Regions from separate parts of the Homo sapiens genome. Here region 1 is linked to region 2. The links come from fine-mapping of genetic effects on gene expression. A gene starts in region 2. The other region holds a variant in brackets. All regions are shown on one strand. Distances are between the middles of the regions. Region 1 overlaps ADAP1 (ArfGAP with dual PH domains 1). Region 2 holds the start of ADAP1 (ArfGAP with dual PH domains 1).

Evidence for each region. PIP is the estimated chance that this variant, and not a neighbour inherited with it, causes the effect.
Region 1: its variant is fine-mapped to the expression of ADAP1 in whole blood (INTERVAL, PIP 0.99).

Annotation. Positions count from the first base shown.
Region 1 is chr7:909,603-912,493 of GRCh38, forward strand. The region is part of intron 4 of ADAP1 (ArfGAP with dual PH domains 1); the gene reads right to left. Among named protein-coding and RNA genes, the nearest start is that of GET4, 34 kb to the left of the region's middle. The variant T/C (reference allele first, on the strand shown) is at 1,413.
Region 2 is chr7:953,292-956,182 of GRCh38, forward strand. It overlaps ADAP1 (ArfGAP with dual PH domains 1), which reads right to left and starts at 1,389. Exons shown (of 11, transcript NM_006869.4): 1 at 1,105-1,389. The coding sequence starts at 1,186. It overlaps LOC124901569 (a long non-coding RNA gene), which reads left to right and starts at 1,563. Exons shown (of 2, transcript XR_007060178.1): 1 at 1,563-1,973; 2 at 2,077-2,199. RefSeq lists enhancers at 1-450, 1,673-2,282 and silencers at 576-785, 1,076-1,565, 1,585-1,740, 1,596-1,695.

The sequences.
Region 1 (2,891 bases), 44 kb before region 2:
GCCAGGACCTCAGGGGCCTGCAGCCCCCAGTCGGCACCAGCAACAGCCAGTGAGACGGGGCTTCTCCCCACAGAGCAGCCCCTCACACGGCAGCGTCCTGGACAGCCGGGTGGGCTGTGGCCAGAAATGGCCATTTTCTCTTAAAGGACTCGTGAGTCCTGGGGCAGGACTCGACCAGTATTTATCAAACAGCTACCGCGTGCCGCGCCCTGCTGTGAGCTGGTCCCGCTGTGTGTCGGGTCCTATGGTGTGGGGTGGGGGGGGTTCTACTGCACACCAGGCCCTACTGTGTGCCGGTCCCACTGTGTGCCAGGTCTTGTCCCACCTGTGGGGAGCTGGGTCCAGTCCACACCCCATGCCCTGCTCAGACGCCTCTGAGGAGCCCTTCTGCCCACCGCACGGCTAAGAGCAGGAAAGACGTTCAGCATCGCCATGACCCACGAGAACGGCAAAACCAAACCAGTGTGCACACACAGGCGCCCGACTGTGGGCGGGGACGCCGGCCCTTCCACGCTGCCCGTGGGGATGTAAGGTGCCCCAGTCCCTGGAAAGCAGCCAGGCCGTTTCTTCCACCACAGTGAAGCGCGCACATCACGTGCCTCAGAGAGAAGTGAAATCCGAGGAAACAGGAACAGCCTTCACATAAAGCCCACACCCGTTTACGAGGCTTTTTTTTTTTTTTCCCCACCCAGGCTGGAGTGCAGGGGCACTATCACAGCTCACTGCAGCCTTGACCTTCCGGGCTCAAGTGATCCTCCAGCCTTGGCCTCCCGAGTAGCTGGGACCACAGATGCACGCCACCACACCCGGCTAAGTTCTGTATTTTTTTGTAGAGATGGGAGCTCACTGCGTTGCCCAGGCTGGTCTCGAACTTCTGAGCTCAGGTGACCCTCCTGCCTCTCCTCCCACCATACTGGGGTTGCAGCGTGAGCCCCACGCCTGGCCCGAGACTGCTGGGTCTTGGATTTGTCAGAGCTGGGACTGCACTCTAAATAGGATATGCAAAGTAGATGTAAATCACACCTCACGTATGTGATTTATATGCTAATTGTCTTGTAAACTGGGGCAGGGAAGCACGTGGCCCTGCTCTGAGTGACAGCTCACAGGGTGGTGGACCCTCTGGGGTGGGAACTGCATCCCCATATCTCATGGGGCCTCTGGCCTTCCACAGGGAGGGGTGCACCATGGATGGGTGGCCTCTGAGAACGGGGCCGAGGCCCTGATCACTGCACCCCGGCCGTCCCTGTGAAGGGCCTGGACCTGGCTTCCGGCCTTTGGGTCCTAGTGGCTCCTGCCCTCCCTCAGGAGGCAAACACCGGAGCCCACGGCAGAGCAGTGTCTCCTTGCTGGGTAAGGCCTTAGAGTTGAAGGCCTCCTCTGTGAGCCCGCACAGGGCTCCGTCTCTCCCTGCC[T/C]GGCCCGTCCACCCACGCTCTCCGACCCATTAATGCACCTTCTCCAGGTTGGTGCGTCTGGGGCCGGCAGAGGCTGAGAACCAGCGGGCCGTATCCTGCGGAGGGCTCCAGGTCCCAGCTTCGCCCTGCGTGGAGCTCTCTCTCCAAACAGCCAGGACAGGGAGGCTTCCCTGTTCCCAGGGGTGAGGCCAGAGGGTGGACGAGGGCTCCTGGGGTCAGCTCTCACCCTGTTCCTATTCTCATATAGCCCCCAGCATGGGGCCCGGCCCCCGACAGGCCTGGAGAGACCCCCCCACTCACACACGGGTTCACAGTTTCCACAGCGCCTTCCTGCCCAGAGTGACGTGTGGATGCCCCCATCCCCGCCAGGCTGCCCAGGCTGCAGGAGGGGCCACCCTCAGGGCCAAGTCAGCCCCAGGGTACCCCCCTCCCCAAGCCCCAAACCCTGAGGCCCCCACACAGGGGCCCCAGCGCCCAAGAACAGCGAACCCTGACTCCTGTAAGACAAACATGCCAGGAAAGGGGCGGGGATCACACGGAGGGCCAGGAAGGGGGCGGGGGTCCCACGGAGGGCCAGGAAGGGGGCGGGGGTCCCACGGAGGGCCAGGAAGGGGGCGGGGGTCCCACGGAGGGCCAGGAAGGGGGCGGGGGTCCCACGGAGGGCCAGGAAGGGGGCGGGGGTCCCACGGAGGGCCAGGAAGGGGGCGGGGGTCCCACGGAGGGCCAGGAAGGGGGCGGGGGTCCCACGGAGGGCCAGGAAGGGGGCGGGGGTCCCACGGAGGGCCAGGAAGGGGGCGGGGGACCCACGGAGGGCCAGGAGCCGACACCCACCCAGAGAGGGGCAATGGGGCAGCCCTACCACCTCTGGCCAGGCCCCAAACACCCGTCCCCCCGAGGGGCAGCCCCACAGCTCTGGCCTGGCCCCAAACACCCGTCCCCTCATGGGCCACGTAAAGCCTCGCGCTGCCTGCGAGGAACGGCTGGTGATGTTCCCAGTAGCGCCCTCGTGCCGCACACCATCGTCCCCACTATATGGACGGGGAAACCGAGGCCCCAGACCTCGTGCACAGCCCCAGCCCCCTCCTGGGCTCCGTCTGCCCTGTGACATTTACGGCAACGGTCGGCCCATCCCTGCCTGGTACCACCAGGAGGGGCCGTCCTGAACCACAGGGGAACCACAGAAGCTCCGACAGGAGCACGGGGTCCGGAGCCTAGAGCAGGAAGCCCCGCGTCTCAGCGAGACCAGGGCCTGGCCCTCAGGACAACATGAGGCATTGTCCAGGCCCCTGTGAAAGCCGCCATTGAGGCTGCGGCCCGAGGCGGGGCCAGCCCGCGGTGGGAGCAGCTGTCACCAGGGTCACCCCCAGGGGCAGGCGGGGGGCAAGTCTGGCTCAGACACAAGGATAAACCCCCACATCTGGGGGAGGGGTGCGGCGCGTCCCCACGCAGTGACCTTGGCCCAGGGAGGCGGCGCAGAGG
Region 2 (2,891 bases):
TCCCCTCTGGGACACCCCAGCTCCTGATGTGGCCTTTCCAGCCAAGCTGCAGCTGGACAGCAGCCACCACGACCTGGGGCTGGCAGAGACCCCTCCATCCCAGAGGGAATCAGGGACACCCCTTTTTCCGGGGTGTCCAGAGGCTGCATATTGAACCAGGGCCTTGGAGGCAAATGCAAGGTCTTCCCCCGCTCCCTCCCTGGGGGCCTCAGTCACCGCCGGTGAGTTTAGGTTTGTTCCGAGGGGCTTAGACTATTGGCCCCCAGATTCCTGGTGTGCCTGGGGTGGCGGGACTGCTCCGGCGGGGCCCTCTCTCCACAGCGCAGCCGGCCTGGGGCTGACAGCTCCCGAGCAGGGCAGGGCTGGTCTGGGCACTGGGCCCCGTTCACAGCCAATGACAGGACCAGTGGCCTGGAAGGGAGGGACTCCGCGCCTTTGGACTCCAGTGCCTTGAAATCCCACAGACCTGGGAACCGAGTCAGGGATGCCCGGCCGGGAGAACGAACGGGCGGGCGGCGGGTGGACCAGGACCTGCGTCCGGCCCCACCTCTCCCAGGCCTCACCTGTCCTGGCGCCCGCCCCGGAGCAGCCAGGTGCAGGGAGCCGGGGGCAGGGGCGCCGCTCACACCCAGGGACCCCCGGTGCGGGAAGGGCGTGAGGCATGACGTCACCGCGAGGTGGCCCCGGAGCCGGCGGACCCCACAGCCCAGCAGAGACCTCCGGCTGGCGGCCCGTTCCCTCCCTGCAGCCAGCCCCGATTTCCTCTTTCTGTGCGGAGCCCGAGCTTTCGCAACGCGGCGGGCGGTCCGCGGTGACCGTCAGACACGCAGCCCGGCGGGGGAGGGGAGGCGGCGGCAGGGGGGTTTCCGGGGGTCCTGGGGGGGGCCCCCCCGCTGCGCCCGGCCCGGGAAGACGTCCGGGTCCCCGCAGGTGCAGCCGGGCCCGGGCCCCATCCGAGCGCCGATCCGGCCCGGTGTTCAGCGCCGCCACCCCCGCGGCGTCCGCGCTCCCCCGCCCGGTCCCCGGGGCCCACCCAGGACCCGCCCGGCACCCCGCGCCCACCCCGGACCCACCCGGCCCCGCGCCCACCCGGCCCACACCTACCCGGGGCGCCGCAGTCCGCGCAGCGCGCGTTCCCCGGCCGCTGCAGCAGCTCCAGGACCGCCCTGCGCCGCTCCTTGGCCATGGCCGCGATGCGCCCGCGATGCCGATGCCGGGGCCGGGGCCGGGAGCGTCAGCCCGGCTCGCTAGGGCCCCGCGCAGGCCGCCCGCCGCCGCCGCCCCTGCGCCATCCCGGGCGGCCTCAGCCCGCGCGCCGGTTCCGCATTCCCGCCGCCCTCTGGGCTCCGCCGCCGCCGCTCGTGTCTCCGCCGCGGTCGCTGAGCGAGTGCCGGCGCGGGGCCCGGGGCGCACGCTGCGCTCTGGCCGGCAAGGCCCGCGGGCGGCCCCCAGCGGTGCAGGCGAGCGTGTGGCCTCCTCCCTCGGCCGCTCCGGCGCCCCCAGCCCGCGCGCCCCGGGGACCCGCTGGGAAATCGCCCGCCGCCCGCCCCCCATCCGCGCGCAGCGTCCCACCTGCCTGGGCGCGAGGCCGCCCCAAAACCTGGCCGGCCTGGGTGGGACCCTCGTGCCGCCGCGCGCGGTGGGACGGAGCCTGCACACCTACTGTGGGGGGCGCAGAGGGCACCTGCCGAGCCCCCCAAGACCATGGGCATGGGGGTGCTCGTGGAAGGCAGGTGTGCGTGTCCTGTGCTACGGACCAGGACCAGGGCGCTCACACCATCCCTGCCTGGGAGGGACGGCCAGCAGGTGACAAACGCCAGCGTCCCAGGGCACTGAGGCCACACAGGGCCCAGACGGAGCCTCCCCCTGAGACCCACCCAGCCGCCCACCACCCACAGATGGGACCCTCTGGGCACCCCTCCCACTCAGGCAGGCTGAGGGGCCCCGCCGGGACTTCACATGGGGGCTGACAGGTAACAAAAAACCTGGTTTTGATGTCACCTCTTCCCAGACTCGCGTGCCCTTCCTCTGCACACCCCAGCATCTTTTCAAATTCTTTCCATTTTCTTCTTGCAGGGTTAATGCAGTACACCCGGCTGAAAACAAACTGGAACATACCAGACTGAAAAAGGAAAGCCTCTCCCCACTGCCTTCCAGGCAACCACTGTTAACAAATTCCTCAGCACCTTCCAGAACGAACGTCTGAGGCCTGTAGCCTTTCATTTATTTATTCATTTATCGAGACAGGGTTTTGGCTAACGGCTGTAATCCCAGCACTTTGGGAGACCCTGGCGGGTGGATCACTTGAGCTCAGGAGTTTGAGACCAGCCTGGGCAACATGGTGAAACCCCGTCTCTACTAAATACAAAGAAATTAGCCAGGCGTGGTGGCGCATGCCTGCAATCCCAGCTACTTGGGAGGCTGAGGCAGGAGAATCGCATGAACCTGGCAGGCAGAGGTTGCAGCGAGCCGAGATTGCGCCATTGCACTCCAGCCTGGGCAACAAGAGTGAAACTCCGTTTCAAAAAAAAAAAAAAAAAAAAAAAACCAAACAAACAAACTCAAAAAAAGTTCAACTGAACCATGACTTGTTCACCCAGTCACTGGCATAGGGGCATTTAGAGCGTTTTGAATGCATCAGAATCATGGTCTACACAACCTCATCTTTGCAAGAGTTTTGTGTGGATTTGCTCTCAAAGTGGCATCGCTGGGGCAATGGTATGGGATGTGGAATGGCCTCCACTGAGGCTGCACTGACCAGAGTGCCACCAAAGGCACCTGTCCCCCTGCTCCAGCTGACGTGGAATCATGGAGCTGCTTAAGCTCTGTCTACCTGAAGCAGAACGCGGCAGCCCGTTTTGGTCTGTGTCTCTGGGATCTGTGCCCTGTGG